Homo sapiens: one gene and its partners. The protein of the gene in region 1 interacts with the protein of each later gene in a pairwise test. Each region holds a gene or a part of one and is shown in the gene's direction. Other genes may lie near its edges. The genes, in order: AP1M1, GCSAM, ZCCHC17, EVI5L, ZNF219, NECAB1 and ZNF8.

Region 1 (3,500 bases):
AGCCCCAGCGATTCTTCTGCCAGTCACTCTGTGCCCTCAGCACGGGGCCTCTGATCTGTGCCTGTTTCCTCACCTCTAAAATGGATGCAAGAAGAGATGCTCCAGCATCTTGGCTCACGCAGGACAGGCTAGGGGGTGCAGGACCGTCGCCCCGGTGTGGATTTTCAGTTGCACTTTCAGATGCATCTCGGCATGCGCAGTGGGTTACAGCCCCTCAGGTCATCTCCCCACAGTCCCTGCCCCAGAGGTTGTCGAGGCGTGTGTGGAGCAATGCCTGGCGCAGTGGAAATGCTGTCAGTGTTAGCCACTGTGACTGGATTTAAGTTGATTATTTTGGATCAAGTGTTATCACACTTCAGGGTGGCCCTGAGAAGCAAGAAGGGGTCAGGACTCAGGAAGCACCATCTCTCATAAGCCCTGGGGGGTGAGGGGCCAGTGGCCTCCCTGGGAGGCCAAGAGGAGAAACAGCTTTCAAGAAAAGCAAGTCTGGCCTGGTTCAAGAGACCCCAGCCCAGCCCAGCCCATCGGCTGAGCAGGGACCACAGGGTCCTGGCCCAGGTCCAGCCGAGCTCATGGACTCTCAAAGCTGACTCAGCGTGGGGACCAGCTGCCGGGCCGGCCCGGAGCATTCAGGGGGCTCCTGGGAGGGAGGGACTGGTACCTGATAGAGAACCCTCAGAGGGGGCTCCAGGCACGCATCATCAGGTCCCAGTGTGGCCTGAGGCCTAGAGGGCAGGACCCACAGTGTCCACCTCATGTCCACAGGGCCTCGGCATGAAGGCTGGAGGGGTGAGCCTGGGGACCCTCAGCCAGGCGTGGGTTGGTGTGGGTTAGGGGTAGACCTTAGCCACAGCTGGGACTCTCCCAGCTCAGGGGATGCCCAGGAGAGGGATGGGCTTGGAGGTGAGAAGGGCGTTGAGAGTGGGGTGGCCAGAGGGTCACATGATGTGGTAGGAGGCAGTGGCTGGTGAGTTGGGGACCTCCCCTCACGCCCACACCGCCACCCCCAGGTCAGCGCCAACGGCAATGTCCTGCGCAGCGAGATCGTGGGCTCCATCAAGATGCGAGTCTTCCTCTCGGGCATGCCCGAGCTGCGCCTGGGCCTCAACGACAAGGTCCTCTTTGACAACACGGGCCGTGAGTACCCTTGCCAAGGGCCCTGCCCATGAGGATGGCCTCACCAGGCACACACATTACAGCCTAGGGCAGGGTTGGGCCAGGCGGAGGAACGAGCTGGTTTCAAGCACTTGGTTGAGCAGCACTTCACACTGCTTGAGACAGCTGTGTAGAGTATTCATCCTTCCCTGGACATAGAAGGTGCAGGGGAGTGAAGATCCTCCAGTCCAGCTGGGAGGCCCCCGTCACCCGGCCTCACACGCCAGGTCCTGCACCCTGCCCTGCTCTGCCTGGGGCACTGGGGCCTAGGCTAAGGCCTTGCTCTCTCCCTCCCAGGCCAGGTTTCTCCCCTCACCTTGGGCCCTAGGTGTGGGCCGTGTGAAGGCCACGCATGGTGATTCTCGCTCCCGCCGCCTGGCCTCTAACACTTCCCACAGCAGGGCGGGGGCAGAGGGGCCCAGGGCCTGGTTTTGTGAACTGTGCCTCCCACTCAGCTGTCACAGGCCACTGGAAGAGGGTGCAGTGGCTGGGCATGCCCCCGTTCCTAGCCCGGTGAGGGCTTCTCGGGCATCAGTCTATCAGGGCAGCTCCCCGCCTGGGGCTGGGCAGGGCCCCACCCACATAGCCCTCAGTGAGGTGGCAAACCAAGGTAGGACCCAGGACCCCGTGGATGCCAGGGCCTGAGCCCTTGGGGAGCCCCGAGCCATCCCCCAGCCAAGTCCACTGATCAATCATTCAGTGAACGTGTCCTGAGCAGGTCCCCTGGCTGGGCCCTGGGATGGCCGCTGGGGACTCAGCATGAACCAGACCCACCAGCCCTGCCCCTGGGGACCCCAGGGGTGTGAGGAGTGATGGGGCAGTTGTCTTGGGACCCAGCCCCCTTGGTGTTTGTGGCCCAGGCTGCTCTCAGTGCGTGGACTGGGGGCCCTGCTCTGCCGGGGTGGGTTGCAGGTGGTAGGAGTACTGCTGAGATAGTGACCCGGAGGGCCCAGATCTGTCCTACCCTCACCCCTGACCCCAGGCGGCAAAAGCAAATCCGTGGAGCTGGAGGATGTGAAGTTCCACCAGTGTGTGCGGCTATCACGCTTCGAGAATGACCGCACCATCTCCTTCATCCCACCCGACGGCGAGTTCGAGCTCATGTCCTACCGTCTCAACACCCACGTGAGTGCGCCACCCTGGGGCTGGGCTGTCGGCAGACTCCTCCTCCCCTTCACCTCCAGGAGGTGAAGCCCAGGCAGGCGCCAGGGCCAGCCCCACCCCACGCTCCATGAGCTGCCTGGCTCTGCAGAGATGGAGTCTGAGGACTTGGGACTCCGAGCTTTCTGAGGGGCACAGACCCCTTTGGCCACCACCACCCCTTTCCCAGGCAGCCCCCAGAGCAGGCCCTGGTCATGTTTTCTGCATTTGCCCCAAGGCCTCCCCGGTAGCTCCCGGCTACCTCGGCCTGTCTGCCCTGGCCCTCCCTGACGCTGGCTGTACGCTCCCTGCAGGGCTCTGGGCCCACACCTGGGCAGATGGTCCCTTGCCCTGGGCCTTGGTTTCCCCTCTGAAATGGGCCTTTGTCAAACAAGGCCAGGTGTGAGCACCCTCTTTGCCCTCCTTGGCAGGTCAAGCCTTTGATATGGATCGAGTCGGTGATCGAGAAGCACTCCCACAGCCGCATCGAGTACATGATCAAGGTGCGTGGGCCGAGGCCACCCACTGAGGGCCTTCTGGTGTCTCTGGCCCGTCCCAGGAGCCTAACCGAGGGCTGGGGGTGCCGTAGGGCTGCCATCCGTGCACCCTCACTGTGGCCTCAGATGCAGGAGTGACCTGACACTGAGGGGACACCGCCTGGGGCCTGCTCCTAGATGGTGCCACTTGTGGGGAGGGGCCTGTAGCCAGGCATCCAGGACACTCCCAGAGGTGTTGCCCCCAGGTGGAGCACCTCTGCCCCTCAGCGACCCTGTCCAGCGCAGCCTGGCCCTGGGACATAGACATTGTCCTAGGAGGGCAGGGCAGAGGGAGGGATGAGGAGCCTTGGAAGCTGAGCAGACAGGAGGATGAAGATGAAACTCCTGAAATTAGGTCTTGGGAGAGTCTCGAGGGCAGGAGAAGGGGTGGGTAGTGCCTGGAGAAGTGGGGCCAGGGGCGGGGCTAGGGAGGATCCCCCGGGCCAGGCTGAGGGGCATGTGTCCTGGAGAGGCTGGCCAGCTCACCTTGGCCTCCATAACCCCGGGCCGCATTGGCCTGGCCTGCAGGCCAAAAGCCAGTTCAAGCGGCGGTCAACAGCCAACAACGTGGAGATCCACATTCCCGTGCCCAATGATGCCGACTCACCCAAGTTCAAGACGACGGTGGGGAGCGTTAAGTGGGTCCCCGAGAACAGCGAGATCGTGTGG
Region 2 (3,500 bases), on another chromosome or scaffold:
CAGTAACTGGGGGCAAGGATACAAAAGGTGGAGGAGAAAGGCACTTACAAGAAACTGCAAGAAAGCCAGCCTGGGATAGGGGAGGGGTGGGGCCTCCTGGCCAAGTTAAAGATTTTCATCTTTGTCCTGACAGCTGCAGGAGATACTGGCTTTACACAGTGGGGAGGCGGGGGCAAGTATGATTAGATTTGTATTAAAGATATCACCCAGGTTCCTGTGCAGAAAACAAATTGCAGCAAGGAGCCGGAAGAGCAGATACCAGAAGAACACTTACGAGGCTGGTGCAGTAGTCTCTGGTGATAGAATAGCACTGAAGTTAAGGAGAAAGAATTCTAGAAGGAGAGTGTGATGAATTGTATCACACCTAAAAATAAAAATAAGAAAGTGTAGGCCTGAGGACAAGCCATTGTGTTTCTGAAGAAGAAAAATGGAAGAGTTTTGACTTTTCCTTCCTTAAAGAGGAGAACCTAATTCATTTACATAGAATCTTAAAATCTAGCCCTGCAAGATGTGTAAATGAATAATACAGCCTCCCACCCTAGCCACTTCACTCCAGGAGTCGTGGGTCCCAGGGAACCTCAATTTCCATCAGAGCAAAACGTAATAGAAATAAGACCAGATGCTAAAACTCTATGCTGAAGATGCTTTTCTTATAATGATAATCAGGGAAGTTTTAGATGCCTATAGGAGCTTATGGAGATGTGGAAATCCAGGATGTGAGGACCGAGAGAATGTCAATCCATATACCATATGGTAGCTTCCTCTGTAGACTTTCATGTGAGGGCACATGTTTGTTTATGGAATTGGTGTGTTTGCAAGAGGGTAGCAAGGGTGTCAGTTTGCCTCTTTGCTGAATGGCCAGAGCCATTTGGTTTTAACTAGGCTTTGAAAAATCGCCCTGCTCATTTGTTATCTGCCAGCAGGTATAGGAATGGGAATATTTAGCTTAAGAGTTTCCTGCTCTGCAAAACTCCTTGAACACCAATTATCACACCACCACCATCCCGTCACCTAGAGTAGAAACGACGGCCCTCTGCTCCACAGTGTGGATCTCTCAGAGCCCCTTGTCTGTCTCCTGTGCTAGCTTGTGAGCCTTTTGAGGACAGAGAATGTTTCTGATTCTCCTTTGTCTCCCCAGTGCCTGGTGCAGAGGCACTGAATTTGTGTAAGGAACACAAATCAATTTTGTGTAAGGAAGGAGACGGGGCTAGGTAAGGAGGGAAAGAGAGCTGGAGGAAGAAATCGTGATTTCCTTTCCAAAGACTAACCAAATGTGTCTCCCCCCTCTCACCTCTCAGGCTGAGCACAGCTCTAGCTGTGACTTGTTTAGATGTCCTGTCACTCCCCAGGGATGTGCTGTAGATCAGAATAGCCTGAGAAGAGCTACCCCAGCTGTTTCTTGGCTTTTTAGTTATTTATATTCTAGCCTCCCCTGCTCTTCCCTTCAAATCTCCCCATAACCTGAAATTCATTGAGTGTATTTTCTTTCTCCAGATGAAAGAATGTCATCTACTCCCATCCAGGTAATAAGAACATCTCTAAGCTATTTTTTGAGATGATGATAGAAGTACAGACACCCTAAATGGCAGGAGAAGTTGGCCTCTGAGATCCCTTCTGACCCTTACATGGAGAAAGACTTTAGATGTCAGTGCTTGTGAACTCGGGTGGCAGGTGCAGGGCCGGGTGGCAGAAGCAGCAGCCACTTCTGCTGTATAATTTATTGAAAGGAACTTAAATTTACTGACCACTTCATTTATGACAGACAACATGCTGAGTGCTTTACACACATCAACTCATGTAGCTAAAACGACAACCCTTGAATATTGCTACTATAATCCATCCCATCCCCCGATTTTATAGATGAGAAAACTGAGAGATTAAGTGACAATTCCCCAAAGCCAAATAGCTAAAAGGGGGCGGAACCAGGATTCAAAACCAAGTCTCACTTCACAATCCATGCTTTTCCCCCTGTACTTTGCTGCTTTGCTTTTTATCTCCTGATATCCCATCATAAGTGAAACCTTCCCTTGAGTCGCTTCCCTATTTAATAACATAAATATCTCTAGAGGGTAATTAAATATCACAGCCAAAACACATTAAGATATCATAAGATTATTTATATTTATTTATTTATTTTTTGGAGACAGAGTTTTGCTCTTGTCACCCAGGCTGGAGTGCAATGGCACGATCTCAGCTCACTGCAACCTCCGCCTCCTGGGTTCAAGCGATTCTCAGCCTCAGCCTCCCCAGTAGCTGGGATTGCAGGTGTGTGCCATCACACCTGGCTAATTTTTGTATTTTCAGTAGAAATGGGGTTTCACCATGTTGGCCAGGCTGGTCTCGAACTCCTGACCTCAGGTGATCCACCCACTTCGGCCTCCCAAAGTGCTGGGATTACAAGTGTGAGCCACCGTGCCCAGCCAGATTATTCTTTTTTATTAGAATGGGCTATCCTCAGAGCCATGAGACTGGGAATTATATGGGTAGTGTCTTAGTCCACTTGTGTTGCTATAAAGGAATATGCAAAGCTGGGTAATTTATAAAGAAAAGAAGTTTATTTGGCTCATGGTTCTTCAGGCGGTACACTCATAACTGCGAGGATGGCACTAAGCCATTCATGAGAAATCTGCTCCCATAACCAAAACACCTCTCACTAGGCACCACCTCCAACAATGGGAACAAAATTTCAACATTAGATTTGCAGGGGACGAATATCCAAACTATATCAGGTGGTCAGAGGTCACTCTGGAACAAGGGGCAGAGGATGCACCTGAGCAGGCTCTAGACCTTAAGCACTCTTGCAGCTAGCCTAGTGGTTGGGGTAGAAGCAGCCATTTAGAAAAAAATGGCCAAGAGATGGGGAGGAGGTGGTCATAGAAGACAGACTTGACCAAGGGTCAAGCCTGTGTTGAGACTGAAATGTAAAGGTCATGGCAAGAGACCAAATCTTGATGATGGTTCTTCTTTGACAAGCAGGACAATGTTGACCAGACCTACTCAGAGGAGCTGTGCTATACCCTCATCAATCATCGGGTTCTCTGTACAAGGCCATCAGGGAACTCTGCTGAAGAGTACTATGAGAATGTTCCCTGCAAAGCTGAGAGACCCAGAGAGTCCTTGGGAGGAACTGAGACTGAGTATTCACTTCTACATATGCCTTCTACAGACCCCAGGCATGCCCGATCCCCAGAAGATGAATATGAACTTCTCATGCCTCACAGAATCTCCTCTCACTTTCTGCAACAGCCACGTCCACTTATGGCCCCTTCTGAGACTCAGTTTTCCCATTTATAGTGAAGTGGCTGGACTAGCATTTGTTTAGCACCAACAAATAAAAGGTGGGATGGGGGATCTGCCTGAAGCAGGGATGGGACACAAAGTCCCTCCAGCTTATCTCCCACAACAACCCTTTCCCTGCAGAGCATGGTTTGTATACCACAAGCCCTCTTAGCACGCAAAAGCCAAAATCTAAAGATCAACCATTTATCCTGAACAACACC
Region 3 (3,500 bases), on another chromosome or scaffold:
TATAGCATCCATAGTATTCATTTAGTTTTTTTGAGATGGAGTCTCACTCTGTTACCCAGGCTGGAGTGTAGTGGTACAATCGTGGCTCACTGCAACTCTGCCTCCTGGGTTCAAGCAATTCTCATTCCTCAGCCTCCCGAGTAGCTGGGATTACAGGCATAGTCCACCATGCCTGGCTAATTTTTGTATTTTTAGTAGAGACGGGGTTTCACCATGTTGACCAGGCAGGTGTCAAACTCCTGACCTCAAGTGATCCCCCGCCTCAGCCTCCCAAAGTGCTGGGATTACAGGCATGAGCCACTACCGCTCAGCCCTAGTTAGTACTTTCATTTACTCATTTGTTCAACAAATATAAGGCAACTTGTAATAAATACTAAAAGAGTAGTTTAAAGCAGTTGTCCCCGACCTTTTTGTCACCAAGGACTACTTTTGTGGAAGACCAATTTTTCCATGGATAGGGGGCTGGAATGGTTTTGGGATGAAACCGTTCCACCTTAGATCATCAGGCATTAAATTCTCATAGGGGGTGCGCAACCTAGATCCCTCACATGTGCAGGTCACAATAGGGTTTGCACTCCTATGAGAATCTAATGCTGCTGCTGATCTGATAGGAGGCGGAGCTCAGGTGGTAATGCTCCTTCACCTGCTGCTCACCTCCTGCTATGCAGCTTGGTTCCTAACAGGCCATGGACCAGTAGCAGTCTGTGGCCTGGGGGTTAGGGACTCCCTGTTTAAAGAAAGGGTTCTAGGAATTCACTTGAGGAGGAATAGTTTACTTCAGGCCTTGATGGTCAGAGAATAGGTGGTATTTGAGTTAGGTTTTGAAGAACAGATAAGATCTTGTCAGACAGCAGGGGAAGGAATGGTATTTCAGGCAAAAGAAATGGTTTGAGGAAAGGAATGAGGCAGAAAAGCACATAGTACATTTGGGAACCTTGTTTAAGGAAAGAAGAGGATATGGTCAAGTACTAGAATGGAAGGCTTGAAAGATAATTTAGGGTCAGATTGTGGAGAGCCATGAATATCAGTTAAAGAATATGAATTTTTATTTATTTATTTTTTGAGATGGACTCTTGCTCTGTTACCCAGGCTGGAGTACAGTGGCATGATCTCTGCCTCCCAGGTTCAAGCAATTCTCCTGCCTCAGCCTCCTGAGTAGCTGGGATTACAGGTGCCCACCACTGCGCCCGGCTAATTTTTGTATTTTTAGTAGAGACGGGGTTTCACCATGTTGGCCAGGCTGGTCTTGAACTCCTGGCCTCAAGTAATCCGCCTGCCTTGGCCTCCCAAAGTGCTGGGATTACAGGCGTGAGCCATCACACCCAGCCCATGAATTTTTTTAAAAAAGCCTTTGGACAGAGAGGCTTCTCGTCAGATTAACCTCCCCAGGAATCCCATTGTCTGGCCTTGCCCTGTTATGCTCAGTATTCTCATCCTGTCTTCAGCCATCCATAGTTTGTTAGCCACCTTTCATTTTCCATAAAAATCTAACTCTTATATTCATCCCCTCAGGTCCCAAAGTGTTAATGAGATAATCTAATAAGTGACTCTGTAAATGGAAAGGGGCTAAAAGCAGTTTCCAATTAGGCATAGCCTGCAAAGTACAGTCTTTTTCTTTTTTATTATGATCAAGATCAGAATTGAGTGTAGTATATAATTTTTTTTTTTTTTTTTTGAGACAGGGTCTTTGTCTCCCAGGCTGGAGTGTAGTGATCATAGCTCACTACAACCTCAAATTCCTAGGCTCAAGTGATCCTCCTCCTTCAGCCTCCCAAGTAGCCAAGACTATAGGTCCATGCCAGCATGCCCCACTAATTTTTTTTTTTTTTTTTTTTTTTTTGAGACAAGAGTTTCACTCTTGTTGCCCAGGCTGGAGGCAGTGGCACGATCTCGGCTCACTGCAACCTCCACCTCCTGGGTTCAAGCAATTCTCCTGCCTCAGCCTCCCGAGTAGCTGGGATTACAGGCATGTACCACTATGCTCGGCTAATTTTTGTTTTTTTAGTAGAGACGGGGTTTCTCCATGTTGGTCAGGTTGGTCTTGAACTCCTAACTTCGGGTGATCTTCCTGTCTCGGCCTCCCAAAGTGCTAGGATTACAGATGTGAGCCACCATGCCTGGCCTAATTTTTAAATTTTTTGTAGAGATGACGTCTTGCTGTGTTGCCCAGGCTGATCTTGAACTCCTGGTCTCAAGTGATACTCCCACCTTGGCCTTCCAAAGTGCTGAGAGATTATAGGTGTGAGCCACAACTGCTGGTCCATAGGGTAGTCTTTAGAAAAAGCACATATGACTTAACTCTGTTAAAATTTTTCATTTGTATGTCTCCCTCCATTGCCAGACTATTAGTTCTTTCCAGAAAAGAATCATGTTTTGTTCGTTTTGGTATACATAATTATTACTATCACTAGTATTAGCACTGGCGTTATCCACTTACTAGCTGTACTGAAAAAATGAGATTAATCTCAGAATCTGTGCTGGGATGGATTGGAGGAAGAAAACTGGAGGCAGGGAGACCAGTGAGGGAGTTATTACTCTAGATGAAACATGATGGGAGCCTAAACTAGAATGATGGCAATGAGGACAAAAAGAGAGACGTGGGTGACTGACACATTTGTTGAATTGAGTGTTAAGTGGGAAGTATGATTTGGTTTGTAGTCTGGTAGAAGCCACAGAGTATTGGAATTGATTGTCATGGGGGTTGCTTAAGCTGCAACTCACAGCCACTTGAAACTCATCTCTACAAATAGATAGGTGAAAGCAAAAACCATGTTTGTGAGTTCCTTGAGTTATGTCCTCAAGTTTCTGCCTTTGTTATGGGTTTTTTTTTGTTGTTTGTTTGTTTTGGAGACAGGGTCTTGCTCTGTCACCCAGGCTGGAGTACAGTGGTGCAGTCCGCTCACTGCAACCTCAATCTTGCAGGCTTAAGTGATCCTCCTGCCTCAGCCTCTCGAGTTGCTGGGACTACAAACACAAGCCACCATGCCTGGCTATTTTTTTTTTTTTTTTAAGTAAAAGGAATCTGTACTGTTAGAAATTAGAATTGTGATTACCCTTGGGGGAGGCAGGTAACTAGAAGGGAGCATGAGATGGGCTTCTGAGATGCTGGCAATGTTCTGTTTGTTTGTTTGTTTGTTTGTTTTGAGACAGAGTCTCGCTCTGTCGCCCAGGCTGGAGTGCAGTGGCGCAATCTCGGCTCACTGCAAGCTCTGCTTCCCAGGTTCATGCCATTCTCCTGCCTCAGCCTCCCAAGTTGCTGGGACTACAGGCGCCCGCCACCTCGCCCGGCTAATTTTTTGTATTTTTAGTAGAGACAGGGTTTCACCTTGTTAGCCAGGATGGTCTCGATCTCCTGACCTTATGATCCACCCGCCTTGGCCTCCCAAAGTGCTGGGATTACAGGCATAAGCCACCACACCCAGCCTTAATGTTCTGTTTTTTGATCTGAGTACTGGTTACTTTGGTATGTTCAAATTATGAAAAATCAAGTGAGCTGTATA
Region 4 (3,500 bases), 8.4 Mb from region 1:
GTTACAGTGAGGCAAGATTGTACCGTTGCACTCCAGCCTGGGCGACAGAGTGAGACTGTGTCTCAAAAAAAAAAAAAAAAGAAAAGAAAAGAAAAAAAACATTTATTGAGCACCTGCTGTGTGCCAAAGTCACAGCTGAGACTGAGGGCGCACCAGTGATAGGAAGGGACACAGACACAAACCCAACACAGCCTGGCTCCATGCTCTTCAGGGGCAGAGCCGCACAGTGGCTAACACTGGAGTCCAACAGACAAGGATTCAATTCCAGCTCCAGCGGCACAGTGGCTCACACCTGTAATCCCAACACTTTGAGAGGCTGAGGTGGGAGGGTGGCTTGAGGCCAGGAGTTGGAGACCAGTCTGGGCAACATAGCAATACCCCGTCTTTACAAAAATATAGAAATAAATACAAAAGGTGTGCCCAGCTCCTGCAAGGATGGCTGTGCTTGGTGCTGTGATGGGTTGAAGCCAGAGAGATGATAGGGAAACCCAGGGGCCAGGGATCAGGGCTCCAGATTGCTATGAGGACCAGAGACCTGAAATAGCTCTGACCCAGCTGAACTGAGGGACTAGGGCAATGCCCTGCCCCACTCTGACTCAGTTTCCCCACATGACATGCATCAATGACTGTCAAGTCTGCGGTTCTGTCTGACTGCATTTGCTTCCTGGGAATGTTCTAGGTGTTTCCATCACCTTTTCTCCCCAGAAGAAACCCAGGAAATATTCTGTGTGACCTGCAGTGTGGCAGGGCCCTCACTCACCTGCCAATCCAAACAATTTCTGTACCACCTTAGTATCAAGCAAGGGGGCACAGGTACAGTCGAGATTCAACTCGTTTGCAAACCTCACCTGCTCCCCAGAGTGTCCTGGGGGAACCTAAAGTGCAAATATCTTTTTCTTTTTTTTTTTTTTTTTTTGGAGATGGAGTCTTGCTCTGTCACCCAGGCTGCAGTGCAGTGAGGTGATCTCGGCTTACTGCAACCCCTGCTCCCGGGTTCAAGTGATTCTCCTGCCTCAGCCTCCCCTGTAGCTGGGATTACAGGCATGCACCACCACGCCTGGCTAATCTTTGTGTTTTTAGTAGAGGCTGGTCTCGAACTCCTGACCTCAGGTGATTTGCCTGCCTCGGCCTCCCAAAGTGCTGGGATTACAGGCGTGAGCCACTACACCTGGCCTAAAACCGCAAATATCTAGCCAAAATCCATCAGCACAGAATGGAAGGCAGGAGCAAGGGAGACGTCTTCGAAACCCCAGCCAGGGAACAGAGAAAACCACTGGGGACAGGTTGCTCTCAGCAGGTCATGGGAATGTAGTTGTCGAGAAAGGATGCATGATCAGCACGCTGGACCCAGACTCAAAGAGGAGCCTGCCCCCGGAATTGAACCCGGGTGCTTGGGGCAAAGCAGCGAGGGGTGGGTGGTGGCTGCTCGACAGCTGCTTCCCCCACTGATTCCCGCACAACCCTTGGCAGACTGACCCACGTGTGGGAAGGAGTCTTCTGAGGGGGCGTGGGTACTGACTGGCCCCCAAACACACACACAGCCACGAAGGCACTGACGTTATTTTTACTGAACCCAGGTTTGTTTTAAAACTTTATTTTTTTGTAATCAAGCCAGTCTGAACAGGAATTGGCCCTGTTTTCTGAAATCGCTGACCCAGAACGTAAGATGCTGGCTGTGCCCTGCCCGGAAAAGTGGCCTGGCCCTAAGGGGACTGACCCCGGCAGTGGGTAAATGAGGGGTGCATGTAGACAGGCGTGGGGGGCGGGCTATGACGTGATCTCCCCCCACCCCCATAGAGACTTCGGACGGAGAACCGGCTCCTGAAACAGCGGATTGAAACCCTAGAGAAGGTGAGGGGCGTGGCCACTGTGAGGACATGGTCGCCATGGGGTGTGACCCACCATGCGGGGCATGGCCGCTAACCTGGGGTGGACTCCTCCAAGTCTTCTCCTCTCTGGAGGACTAAGCAGCCCTACCTTCCTGCCCCAGGACCCGACCTGAACCCGATTTGGAGTGCCCTGCAACTGGGGGCGACTCGTATGGTGATTAATCCTGGAGTGGGGGCGAGTTACAACCCAGTGGCCTGCAGCCACGGGAATCCATTTGTGTTCTGTGCCCTCCCCGGCTGCACAGACGGGGAGGGGTGAGGAGGAGGGAGAACTGCCACTTTGATGGACGAGCCCCGTAATTGGGCCACAAGCCACCCCACCCTGTAATTTGGAAGTCTTGCCCTCAAAAGAAAGGAAAGGAAACCCAGTGGAGGAGAAGCGTGGCGCCATGGTGGGGAGCCACAGCCCGGACTCTGCTCCCCAACATGCTAAAGATGGGGGTGGAATTGGGGGCTCACTGAGCCCCAGCCCCGGGAGCCCCCAATTCCTGCTCCTCACTCGTCCTCACTTGACCCTCCACTGGCCACAGGAAGTGGGTTGGCAGCCGGATTTGGTTGCCCTCACCCCAAAGCCTTGTTCTGCCTTAAAATTACAACGCACCCCCTCCTCTCCCACTCTCCAGGAGGTCCGCACGAAGCCAAAAGTCCCCCTGCCCCCCACAGTTTTTCCAGCCAGCAGCGGCCCGGCTGACCCTGGAGGGTGGGACAGTGGGTTTCCCAGCCCTGCGGCCTCCCCCACAGCCGCGGGCACCCCCGACCTCCCCGCTCACACCGAACCCCTCTCCAGGACGGAGCTGGCTCTAGCTTTGGTCTTCCTCCGGGTCCTCTCCTGCTGGTTCTCTGGTCTTCCCTCCTCTCTCCCCCGCTTCTAGAGATAGTCCACTGCGTTAGTGACAAGTGGTTCTTGTCTGTCTCCCCTCTCCTGTCCCCGCGCCTTCCGCTCTGCCTCCTCCCCCTGTCGCTGGGAACCCCCTTCGCCGGGTAGGAGAGCGCTGCTCTGGCTGATAGGTTAATCCAGGTACTGTAGCTTTTTATCCCCTCTCCGGATTCCTTCCTGGCCCCTTCCCTGCACCCTGCACATGACAGCCAGTAACCGCCTCTTCCCTGCCATTCTGCGGGCAGGCCTGGCGCCATGCATGGAGCAGCTGGGGACCGCTTCTGGGGGACACAGAGGCTTCCCGGGGGGGCGGGGCATGTGAAGTGGGGAGAAGGGTGTGTGTGGAGGGGCTGTGAGTGCGTTTGGGTGTGAATGTCCACATGCATGTACAGAAAGCTTCCTCCGGGCGACACAGGGTGGGGACCCAGGAGGGCTGGGGAACCTAAAACCATATTCACATAAGGCCCTGGTGTGTGCAGTGCTGCGGTCACACACACACACAACACATGCACACACACACACGCACACACACGCCCGGCCCTCACGCTGCTGCTCTCTGCTCCTACCTGCAATGCCTGCTACCACCTTCTCTAGCTCACCTGCTCCTGCTGCCACCTCATCTTGAATGGCTTTATCTGGAAGCTGCCACCCGCCACCTGGTGGCTTTGAGCCTGGAATGGGGGGCCCAAGTTGGGTAGGGGACAAAGATGAGGTGGGGGAAAAAAGGGGGTCTT
Region 5 (4,297 bases), on another chromosome or scaffold:
GGGCTCAAGCCATCCTCCCTGCTTGGCCTCCCAAACTGCTGGGATTACAGGTGTGGGCCACTGTGTCTGTCCTGATAGATATGTTTTTCTACCTATTCGCACCTCAGTTTATTCACTGATAAAAGGGGGCTAACAATATGACTGTGAAGAGTTGTTGATTCAGGGTGGGTGTTTAATAACTATTAGTGGTGCTGATGAGGTCACACCGATAAGTCTGATGCCCATACACTAAAAGTGTTATTCAGAAGGAAGCTGGGGACACATTTCTACAGTCGGAAGCAGAACCAGCTGGGCCCAAATATACTCTATAGATCAAAACAAATCCCAGATCTACCTAGGTGCCCTTGGCAAGTTGCTTAATCTCTCTGTTCCCTTATCTATAAAAGGAAGTTAATAATACCAGTCTCAAGGGGTTGCTTTCAGCATGGAAGAGAGCTTAGCCCAGTACCTGGTACACAAGTGCTCAATGTTAGTGGCTATGATCATCATCACTATTATTATTTCTTGTTGTTGACGATAAGAGGAGACTGCGCCAGAAGACTCTAGAAGTTAGTACGAGGAGGGAGGCAGGGTCCTGGGAGGCAAGTGATCTTTTGTAAGCCACTCCTGCCCCATCAGTGCTGTGCCAACATCGGCGGGTCATTGTATCTACTCTTTTCTTTCCCGGGGAGTGGGAGTCACGTTTTAAAGAGATCCAGAAAACTGCTGTGTGTCTACTCCTCCTCAATTCCCACGTGCATTGATTTTATTTGGTGGCGATGTGAGATGTTGGGCTTGCACTGAGGATCCCCGAGCCTGCAGGCCACTGGGGAAACAGACTTCCTGAAGCCTCATTTTTCTTACTTGTAAATGGGGGCTAATTTAATTATAGAGGGTTATTGGAAAGATTATATACTATTAGATAGGTGAACAGGCATTCAGTAAATATTGACTAAATCTGAGTATACTACTTACCAGTTTGTAGTCTAGACTACAATCGCCTGGAAGGAAGGTACCACTTCTTTCTCATCCCTCACAGCGCTGAGCCCAGTGCCTGGCACTTAGTAAGCACTCAGTAAATATTTGTTGTATTGAAGAGCCATTAAAGTGACTTGAGGAATGGAAAATAGAATTCGAGAGGAAGGCGCAGGAATTGTTTATCAAGAACGGAAAGGACCGAAGAGTAACTTTAATAATGTTTCTTATACGGCCGACATTAACTATCTCTATAATCGCCCCTCCTCCTCCCCCAAAAGAGAGACAGAAATTGTAAGGGAGAGGCTTTGAGATAAAACCCCAGGAAGAACTTCCCGAGTCTGTGCATGTTGGGGCAGAAAGAGCGGCAGAGCCAACTCCTTCCCTGGTATGTCCGGGTTTAGGGAGGGAGGGGCAGTGCTGCTTGGAGGCTGGGGGAAGGACGAGATGACCTTTCAAAATCTCTTCCAGTCTCCTGTTGGAATCCTCTGTGCGCCCCACCCCCGCTCCCTCCCTTCCTCCCTCCCTCCGACAGCGCCCCCCGTCTCCAAACCGCCCGCACCCCGCCCCTGGCGGCCGCCTCTCGCGGCTCCCGGGGTCCCCAGCTCCCTGTCCCCGGAGCCAGAGCCCGGCTCCCGCGCGGCTCCCAGCCCCGCCGCGCCGCCCCCCGCATGCTAATGGCCGGGCCGCCTCCCGCCGCACACAATGCGGGCCAGGGCCGGGGGCGGGGGACCGGGGAGGGGGCGGGGGCCGGGCCGGGGGCGGGGGGGCCGGGGCCCGGCGCATCTCCCCCGGCCCCACGTAACGCTGACGCCCGCGCCGCCGGCCCGCCGCCCGCCGCCGCCGCCGCCGCCGCCGCCCGCTCCGCCGCCGCCCGCCCGGGGCTCGTGAGTAGCCGCTCCCCCGACTCCCGGGCCCCCCCGTCCGCCACCCGGCCCCCGCCCCCGGCCCCCTCCCCCCTCCCGGAGGGGGGGCCCGCTCAGCGCGCCCGGCTCGGAGCAGGTGCAGGGGGCGGGGGCGGGGGAGGGGCGCCGGCTCGGCCCCAAGCAAACTTCGCCCAGAGCTCCTGGGGGGGCGGGGTGGGGGTGGCGGCCTCGGAAGCCTGGAGAGCTGGGGGGCCCCAAGGGAGGGGGGGCCAGGTGGAAGAGCTGGGGGAGCAGACACCAAAGGGAAGGGCCAACGGGGGGGATGTGGCGGGGGAGGTGGCGGGTGTCTTTGTAGGGGCCCGAAGGCAGGGCGCGAGGGACCTGGGGGTGAGGGGCGGCAGAGCCGCGAGCCTGAGTGGATGTGCACCCCCCAACCCCCGGCCCAGGTAGGGCTGGTGGGGGAGGGGGAAGGAGCCCAAACTCTCTGGAAGCACGGGGTGGCGGGGGAGGGGAAAGGATGGGGGGTGCTTCCCTCTTTGCGTCCCAAACAAAGTGTCACAAAGAGCTCGGCCCGCGGCAGCAGCGGAGGCGGCTGTAACTCAGCTTTTGTTCTCCTGGCCGGGGGTAGCTGAGCCTTGGCCTCCCTATCTCCCAACCCTGCCCCCCATCATCCTTCTGGCTTATCTTCCTGGGGAGGGGTCTGGGGTGCTGCTGGAAAAACCTCTCCGGCAGGATAGCAGGTCCTACCCTACTTAGCAATCTATTTCTGGGAGGGGGATTTTCCCAGAGGCTCCCTTGATCGCCCCTACCTCCCAGTCTGAGGACCGAGGCTCACGTGGGTGCTAAGACTGACTTTTCTAGGGTCAGCTCCACTTAAAGGGACTTAGGGCTGGCTACATGCCCCTCTTTCCCAAACCCAGGTCTTCCAGAACTTTCAAAATCAAAATCGGGGTTGCGTTAGGACATGCCTCTGGGATAAGATTCCCCATGGTGGGATGGCAGCAGGTGAGCAGGTGTGCCTTCCTCTCGCCTCCTGCTGTACCTTTGAAGTCCATGGCTGAGGTTCCATGTCCCTAACTCAGGAGAGTGAGGACAGAGGGAAGGAGGCTTTACCAAGATCTCAGTCTAAAAAGGCTGGTGAGCTGCAGAGTGGAGCGGGTTAGGAGGAGCTATCTGAGCAGTGAGGTTCAGAGGGCCATGGAGAGGAGACCATAAAAGTGAACTACTGGTGTGTCTGTGTGATCAAGGTAGTCTTTTGAACGTAGACCGCCCTAGAAGCTCCCTTTCCTTTTAACCCCATCTAGTGCAGTGGTAATCATAATTGTTAGCAGATTTGGGAGGTCTAGGATTCTCAAGAGGGAAAACCATCGTGTTAGAGGTGACCAGAGGCAGTTACAACTGGACCCCAGAAGTCCTGAACCCTTGCTCCTTACACTTTGACCCTAAAAACTTTTGAATCACAAGACTTGAGGGACAGTCTTTGTGGTCCATTTAGCAAATACTTCTATGTACCTGTCCTTGTTGTTTCTAAGTCTTTTCACCAACCATTCCATCCTTCTCTACTGAGTAAGGTTTAGTGGTCCACACCCACTTCCCTACCAGCTGCCCCAGCATGTAAGGATAATTGGCCTACTGCTTTTGAAAGGTTTCTGATATCTATCCCTGGCCCCGCATCCTTATAGAATCCAAATAAGGGCAAGATAACCCCTGATTCCCAGTGGGGGTGGAAAGTAGGTCAGTGCTGCTGTCTGGCCAAGTCTCGAGGATGGTGTTTAAGGCCTGACTATAGAAAACTCTGTGATTATTGTCCAGGGGCAATATATGCATGACCTCGGTTCCAAGGCAGTTCATAGTATCCCAGTCCCTGTCAGTTCTTTCCCCTACTGAGAAAAAAATCATGGGATCAGGTGTCTGGAACCTGGTTTGATATGGAGATGATTCAGATCTTCATTGGGCCTAAGAAGGTATCTCAGTGAGTTTTGTTGATTTTAGGCCACCTTCTGGGGAAACTTTCCGTGCTGGGGAATTCAGCTTCAGTTTGGGCCTTCTTGTATATCACTCTATTTCTGTTCTGGAAACTGCTATGTGCAAAGTGGTTTATTGTTGTTTTGTTTTGGGATAGGAAGCTTTGCCCTTTTCTGACTCTTCTTGCCTCAGATATGAGGCCAGCTTCCTAAGAGATTTTGCTTGCTATCCTACAGACAGTTTTAGGGGCCCTAGAATCTTCTCAGAATGAGAGTATGTGCCCATAGGTTAGTCAGCTATGACCATGCAGTATTCCCAGCCCCCCCGCCCCACGCCTCCACCATCTGCTTCCTCTGAATATACCAGATTGGCTGTACACCAGGATGTTCCGGGAATCCCCAGGAGAGCAACAGAATGTGATGGACCCAAATATGATGCCTCAGTAACTCATTCCAGGATGTACAAACTGTAACTGTCAGGATGCTCCTTATAGCTAATTAAAATTCTTCTAG
Region 6 (3,500 bases), on another chromosome or scaffold:
ATATTCCAGTCATTTCTGCAGCTTTTTTATTCATCTCCTGGTGGGTGGATGAGAGTGATGCTGTAGCCTCCAGGGCTCGACAGATCTTTTCCCTTCTCTCCACCCTCTCTCTCTAGGATCAATCTGGGATTGATGGGTACATGGTAAAAGAAAAAAAAAAAATCCTGGGTATTTTTTTCTACCATACTTCTAATTGCATTTGTTTTGTCACCCTTAGGACTACCAAGAAGCCTCCAATTTGGAACAATTCGTAACTAGATTTTTATTGAAGGAAACCCTGAATCAGCTGCAGTCTCTCCAGAATTCCCTGGAATGTGCCATGGAAACTACTGAGGAGCAAACCCGTCAAGAAAGGCAATTTACATGTTTTCATCTGATGTCTATTTAGTGACTCTATGTTCATGAAAAAACAATTGAGAGGCATTGTACTTACACTAGCAAAAACTAAAAAAGAGAATTGATATATTTAAAAAGAATGACAGTGACCTCCACTGGTTGCTTGCCTTATTATTTGCCTCTAAAAAGACCATTCTACTTTTTCTTTTACTGTCAGTCATTTAGTAAACTATATATATATATATATATATATATATATATGTGTGTGTGTGCGTGTATATATATGTCTGTGTGTATATATATACACACACACACATATATGTGTATGTGTGTATATATATACACACACACATATGTGTGTGTGTGTATATATATACATATATGTGTGTGTGTATATATATATATTTCTTTTTTTTTGAGATGGAGTCTCACTTTGTCACCCAGGCTTGAGTGCAGTGGCACGATCTTGGCTCACTGCAAACTCTGCCTCCCGGGTTCAAGCAATTCTTGTGCCTCAGCCTCCCAAATAGGTGGGATTACAGGCACACACCACCACGTCCAGCTAATTTATTGTATTTTTTAGAAGAGACGGGGTTTCACTATGTTGATCAGGCTGGTCTTGAACTCCTAACCTCAGATGATCCACCCATCTTGGCCTCCCAAAGTGCTGGGATTACAGGTGTAAGCCACTGAGCCCAGCTGAGTCAACAAATTTTAATTGAAAATTTAGTAGATGGAGAAGACTTTAAAGTATTATGAATAATATAAAGATACATTTAACATAATGTCAATCCTTAAGGAAGCCTAAGTCTATCATATAAATAAGACATGAACACAAAAACTATACTGCAAAGAACAAAGTGATAATAAATACCGTAGAGAAGAGGAAATACATTGCCAATTGTTTTCAGAATATTAAAAGATTAAATATGGATAGAGGGATGGAAGGATGAGAAAGTCAATTTCATGGAGTTTCTCTATTTGAGCTTGTCTTGCAAAATCAAGAGATCAGTGAAAAAGCCTGGTGGGAAGACAAGACTTGAACTGGACCTGTAGGATGAATTTGAATGGCAGAATGAGAGTCTCTCTAGAGGGATCCGTCTCACCCACCTCCTGTTACCCACCTCTCATGTGGCTCACTTCTCTTTGGTTGTCTGGTCACTGATTGGACAGTAATTTCTCTGGGAAGCCTTCACTGCTCATTCATACCTCCCACTTCACTACCGTGTATTCCTATAGTGCCCCCTATTTATATCTACTTATCTCAACCCCTTCCTTGTTAATTTGGTGTAATTTTGAAAATGTGGAAATGATGGGAAAGACCCTTACAGACTACATGAACCTGGATATACTTGGGAGACCTGATAATTCAGTAAGCCTAATTATTTCAGGAAATGGAGAAAAGTGAATGATGGAAATTATTTCAAAATTCAATGCCACCAATAGGTATCACTGAGAAAATAAGTAGTCATATTGCAATAGCTATATAAATAAAGGCACTAATGCTTAAGAGACACCTATACTAAAAATGTGTAGGGCACACATCAAGGTGATCCCAGCCAACAGTTGATATTTTTCTGAGTTGTCATTGCTTATACTTTGCAAGCTAGAGAAGCTTGCAAAACTCTTGCTCCTGGGGCATATTTTGGCAGATGTGTTACTTTAAACTTATAGATGTGCTTTATCTAACTTTTACATCTTAAATTAGAGAGAAGGAAACAGTAAGTTTTCTGAACAGGCTGATAATAGACTACCCTGCAGGACCAATTTTCCTGAACAAATTAACTGATACATAATTATTAGGACATCTCCAAAATAGTGGAATTTTCAACCATGTGTTTACAATGTCAAAATGAGTGAGCACCACCAACTTCTAACAAAAAATCCTGTAATTCCAGAATCTAATGAGCCCATGCAGCTGACTGTCACAGGGAAGTACTCTTTAGCAGATCTGTGAAGCATCCTCTACATCATAAACTTCCTGTTTTCACTGCGTTGGGTGATTCTATACCAAATGGCAAAGTATAACAATTCACTTTAGAAAAGCAAAACCCACCTCCTCAGCTTTGAGCAGAGGATAACTGAATGTCTTGAAGCACAGTGAAATGGATTTCATGTTCCTAATGAGAAAAATGAGGCCTCCTGTGTTGTTTCTTTTGTTTGGACTTTCTGGAAATAAAATGGGAACTCCCTTTTTAGAATCAGTCATCTGCCACCTGAGAAGAGGCTTGAAAAAGTGCTCTACTCCCCTTCTTCACCTGCGCTTTTGTTTTTTTCTACAGTCATCCCCTGAAAACCTGTGCTCTGCATTTACCACCATGCTGTGAATGTTTAATGAACAACTGTTTTCTGTGTTAGGCCACAGGCTAGCCTTGAACTCTTGTGACTGCTGCCAGCAGCTGCCTAGCAGCTGTGCTTAATGAGAAGGAGCATGACAATATAGACTTTAAGGAAAGTAGAAGGCACTAGAGGATTAACGAACCTTTTACTTCTGGATTTCTCACTCAAAAACAGCTTCAAATAATGGGAAATGTTACATGTCTGACTGCAGTTTAAGGGGTGCTGTTGTATGGCATTTGACTAAGACACCCAGGAATGACAAAATCCCACCCCAAATCTGTGATATTCCCCCTGAGAGGTTTATAAAGAAATGCATAAACAAGCAAACAGAAAATAAGGTACCACTATGGATTTATGCCCGTAATATCTGATGAACCAGACTGAAGCACGTGAATTATGCCCAAACCTAAAGGGACTGTGTCTCCTCTCCCAAGGCTATATCTTCCTATCAGCTGGCCACCAAAAGTGAGGAGAGCCCTGGGACCTTCATCAGTGAGGAAAAGATAGAGAGAGAAAAACTATACCTTTCCTATGATGTCAATCAAGAGACCAGTGAAAACGCCTGATGGGAAGACAAGACTTGAAGTGGAACTTTAGGATGAATTTTAATGGCAGAATGAGATTCTCTCTAGAGGGATCCGTCTCACCCATCTCATGTTACCCATCTCTCATCTGGCTCACTTCTCCTCGTCTGTCTTGTCACTGATTGGACAGTACTTTCTCTGGGAAGCCTTCACTGCTCATTTATACTTCCCACCTCATTACCATGTATTCCCATAGTGCCCTCTATTTATATCTACTTATCTCAGCCCCTTCCTTGTTTA
Region 7 (3,500 bases), about 42 Mb from region 1:
GTACAAAAATTAGCTGGGTTTGGTGGCACATGCCTGTAATCCCAGTTATTTGGGAAGCTGAGGTGGGAGAATCACATGAACCAGGGAGATGGAGGTCGCAGTGAACCGAGATTGCACCACTGCACTGCAGCCTGGTCAACAGAGTGAGGCCCTGTCTCAAAATAAAAAATAAAAAAATTGAAGTATTTAGTATATGTGGTTTTGTTTTGTTTTTTAACCTAGCAGCAACACTGGTGGTGTATAGTTTTGATTTTTCATTTCCCTGATGACTAATGATGTTGAACATCTTTTCATGTACTTATTTGCCATTTGTGTATCTTCTTTTATATATTCTTCAAAGAAATAACTATACAGATTCTTTGCCTATTTTAACTGGGTTGTCTTTTTATTACTGAGTTGTATGTGTTCATTACATATTCTAGATACAAGTCTCTTATCAGATATGTGATTCCCAATTATTATCTCCCATTCTGTGAGTTGTCTTTTCACTTTCTTGCTAATGTCCTTTGAACTACAAAAGTTTTTGTTTTGATGAAGTCCAATTGATTACATTTAGTTGCTTATCCTTTTGGTTTCATATCTAAGAATCCCTTGCCAAATCCAAGGTTACAAAGATTTATCTCTCTGTTTTCCTCTAAGAGTTTTATAGTTTTAGCTCTTACTTTTAATTTAATTTAATTTTTTTTTTTTTGAGATGGAGTCTCACTGTGTCGCCCAGGCTGGAGTGCAATGGCATGATCTCGGCTCACTGCAACCTCTGCCTCCTGGGTTCAAGCAATTCTCCTGCCTCAGCCTCCCAAGTAGCTGGGACTACAGGAGCACGCTGCCACGCCCGGCTAATTTTTGATATTTTAGTAGAGATGGTGTTTCACCATGTTGCCCAGGCTAGTCACGAACTCCTGAGCTCAGGCAATCCACTCGTCTCAGCCTCCCAAAGTGCTGGGATTACAGGCGTGAGCCACTGCGCCCAGCCTCTTACATTTATGGCTTTGTTTCTATTTTATTTTATTTCTTTTTTTTCTCTTCTTTTTTTTTTCTTTGAGACAGGATGTCACTCTGGTTGCTTAGGCTGGAGTGCGGTGGCATGATCTTGGCTTGCTGCAACCTCCACTTTCCAGACTCAAGCACTCCTCCTACATCAGCCTCCCAAGTAGCTGGGACTACAGGCAGCCTGGCTAATTTTTTTCAAATTTTTTTTGTAGAGGCAGGGTTTTACCATGTTGCCCAGGCCAGTCTTGATCTCCTGGACTCGAGTGATCTGCCTGCCTCAGCCTCACAAAGTGCTGGGATTACAAGCATGAGCCACTCTGCCCAGCCAGCCTAATTTGTTTTGAGTTAATTTTTATATATGATATAAGATAGAAGTCTGTGTTAGTTTGAATGTGTCTCCCAAATTTCATGTGTTGATAGTATTTGAAGGTGGCGACTTTTGGGAGAAATTTAGGATTAGATAAGGTTATCAGGATTGGACTCCCTTGATGGGACTAGTGGCTTTAGAAGGAGAGAGAGACCTGAGCTGGCACACTCTTGCCCTCTCGCCATGTGATGCCCTCCACCATCTTATGTCATAACAAGAAGGCCCTCACCAGATGCCAGTACCATGATATTAGACTTCCCAGCCTTCAGAACTGTAAGAAATAAACTCTTTTTTTTTTTTTTTTTTGAGTCGGAGTCTCACTCTGTTGCCCAGGCTGGAGTGCAGTGGCGCAATCTTGACTCACTGCAAGCTCTGCCTCCCGGGTTCACACCATTCTCCTGCCTCAGCCTCCCATGTAGCTGGAACTACAGACGCCCACCACCACGCTCGGCTAATTTTTTGTATTTTTAGTAGAGACAGGGTTTCATCGTGTTAGCCAGGATGGTCTCGATCTCCTGACCTCGTGATCTGCCCGCCTCGGCCTCCCAAAGTGCTGGGATTACAGGCATGAGCCACCGCTCCCAGCCCACAAATAAACTGTCTTCATCAAAGTTATTGAAAGAGAGAGAGAGAAAAAAAGCAACTTTCTTTATAAATTACTTCGTCCTTAGGAGGACAAGGCGAGAGGATCACTTGAGGTCAGGAGTTCGACACCAGCCTGGCCAACATGGAGAAACCCTGTCTCTACTAAAAAATACAAAAATTAGCTGGGTGTGGTGGCGTGCACCTGTAGTCCTAGCTACTCAGGAGGCTGAGCCAGGAGAATCAACTGAATCCGGGAGGCAGAGGTTGCAGTGAGCCAAGATTGTGCCACTGCACTCCAGCCTGATTGACAGAGTGAGACTCCCATCTCGAGAAAAAAAAAATAATAAATTATTCAGTCTGTGATATTCTGTTACAGCAACAGAAAATATGCTGGGACAGGGACTATCTTTACTCTTTTCCATGTGGCTATCCAGATGTCCTGTAGGAAGTGTTTGTAAACCACTTAATCATTATACAGCCCCCAAGGGGTGATGCTTTGTTGACATGGAAACTGGGAAGCAAAGATGCTTCTTGGGGACGAAGTGACTGAGCCAAGACTCTGATCCAGAAATATCTGGCTTTCAAGCATGGCTGCAGAAGGGCTTTGTTTATGGGACACATTTTAGGTAATGTTGCATCAACTTATAAAAATCAGAATTTTTCACGTAAAGGCCAGGCGCGGCGGCTCCCGCCTGTAATCCCAGCACTTTGGGAGGCCGAGGCGGGTGGATCACTTGAGGCTAGGGGTTCGAGACCAACCTGGCCAACATGGTAAAACCCCATCTCTACTAAAAATACAAAAATTAGCCGGGCGTGGTGGTGCGCTCCTGTAGTCCCAGCTACTACGGAGGCTGGGGCAGGAGAATCACTTGAACCTGGGAGGCAGAGGTTGCAGTAAGTGGAGGTGGCACCACTGCACTCCAGCCTGGGTGACAGAGCAAGACTCTACCTCAAAAAGAAAAATAATTTTTCACATAAAAATCTGACCTAATTTTCAGCTTCTCTTCAGAGATGAGCAGTTCTGACAAAGGGACCTGTATTTTCCCGTAATCAGTGAGTTCTGAGTCCCTGCTGCTCCTTCAGACAGGGTCCATGCTCCCCATCACCTCCAGTCCCACCACTCATAGGTAAGTGTCCTTGTGGGCTCTTAAACTGGCCCACTTCTGTCATGTGAGCCTGCCTTGCCCTGAAAGCAGGCGAATTTCTGACCCCAGCCCTGTGTGCTTCTCTTTTCAGGAAGGATGGTGAACCTGTTTTTTTGTTTTTTTTTTTTGAGATGGAGTCTCACTCTGTCGCCTCAGCTGGAGTGCAGTGGTGTCTTGGCTCACTGCAACCTCCACCTCCTGGGCTCAAGCGATTCTGCTGCCTCAGCTTCCCAAGTAGCTGGGATTACAGGCATGTGGCCCAGCCAATTTCACTTTGTATCTAAGTATTAGTGAGTGTATTAGTTAGCTGCTGTGTAACACTGTCCTAAAACAGTATCTGTTTTACTTAAAACAGTAACTGTTTCTTTAGCTCACAAACCTGCAAATAAGTGGTTTAGGCCAGTCTCTGCTGG

What was found.
Region 2: the proteins of AP1M1 (region 1) and GCSAM interact in binary tests that used the Homo sapiens proteins (3 or more experiments, as listed by UniProt).
Region 3: the proteins of AP1M1 (region 1) and ZCCHC17 interact in binary tests that used the Homo sapiens proteins (3 or more experiments, as listed by UniProt).
Region 4: the proteins of AP1M1 (region 1) and EVI5L interact in binary tests that used the Homo sapiens proteins (3 or more experiments, as listed by UniProt).
Region 5: the proteins of AP1M1 (region 1) and ZNF219 interact in binary tests that used the Homo sapiens proteins (3 or more experiments, as listed by UniProt).
Region 6: the proteins of AP1M1 (region 1) and NECAB1 interact in binary tests that used the Homo sapiens proteins (3 or more experiments, as listed by UniProt).
Region 7: the proteins of AP1M1 (region 1) and ZNF8 interact in binary tests that used the Homo sapiens proteins (3 or more experiments, as listed by UniProt).

The regions. Positions count from the first base shown.
Region 1 is NC_000019.10:16,225,411-16,228,910, forward strand, and holds part of AP1M1 (AP-1 complex subunit mu-1), read left to right. Parts: intron 1-1,010; coding exon 1,011-1,137; intron 1,138-2,137; coding exon 2,138-2,280; intron 2,281-2,726; coding exon 2,727-2,798; intron 2,799-3,359; coding exon 3,360-3,500. UniProt on the Homo sapiens protein: Subunit of clathrin-associated adaptor protein complex 1 that plays a role in protein sorting in the trans-Golgi network (TGN) and endosomes.
Region 2 is NC_000003.12:112,123,249-112,126,748, reverse strand, and holds part of GCSAM (germinal center-associated signaling and motility protein), read left to right. Parts: intron 1-1,494; coding exon 1,495-1,523; intron 1,524-2,973; coding exon of another isoform or gene 2,974-2,976; coding exon 2,977-3,294; 3' UTR 3,295-3,500. UniProt on the Homo sapiens protein: Involved in the negative regulation of lymphocyte motility. It mediates the migration-inhibitory effects of IL6. Serves as a positive regulator of the RhoA signaling pathway.
Region 3 is NC_000001.11:31,342,032-31,345,531, forward strand, and holds part of ZCCHC17 (zinc finger CCHC domain-containing protein 17), read left to right. Parts: intron 1-3,500.
Region 4 is NC_000019.10:7,854,218-7,857,717, forward strand, and holds part of EVI5L (EVI5-like protein), read left to right. Parts: intron 1-1,797; coding exon 1,798-1,851; intron 1,852-2,874; coding exon 2,875-2,907; intron 2,908-3,500. UniProt on the Homo sapiens protein: Functions as a GTPase-activating protein (GAP) with a broad specificity.
Region 5 is NC_000014.9:21,095,856-21,100,152, reverse strand, and holds the start of ZNF219 (zinc finger protein 219), read left to right. Parts: upstream 1-1,497; 5' UTR 1,498-1,841; intron 1,842-4,297. UniProt on the Homo sapiens protein: Transcriptional regulator. Recognizes and binds 2 copies of the core DNA sequence motif 5'-GGGGG-3'. Binds to the HMGN1 promoter and may repress HMGN1 expression. Regulates SNCA expression in primary cortical neurons.
Region 6 is NC_000008.11:90,917,275-90,920,774, forward strand, and holds part of NECAB1 (N-terminal EF-hand calcium-binding protein 1), read left to right. Parts: intron 1-217; coding exon 218-354; intron 355-3,500.
Region 7 is NC_000019.10:58,281,955-58,285,454, forward strand, and holds part of ZNF8 (zinc finger protein 8), read left to right. Parts: intron 1-3,500. UniProt on the Homo sapiens protein: Transcriptional repressor. May modulate BMP and TGF-beta signal transduction, through its interaction with SMAD proteins.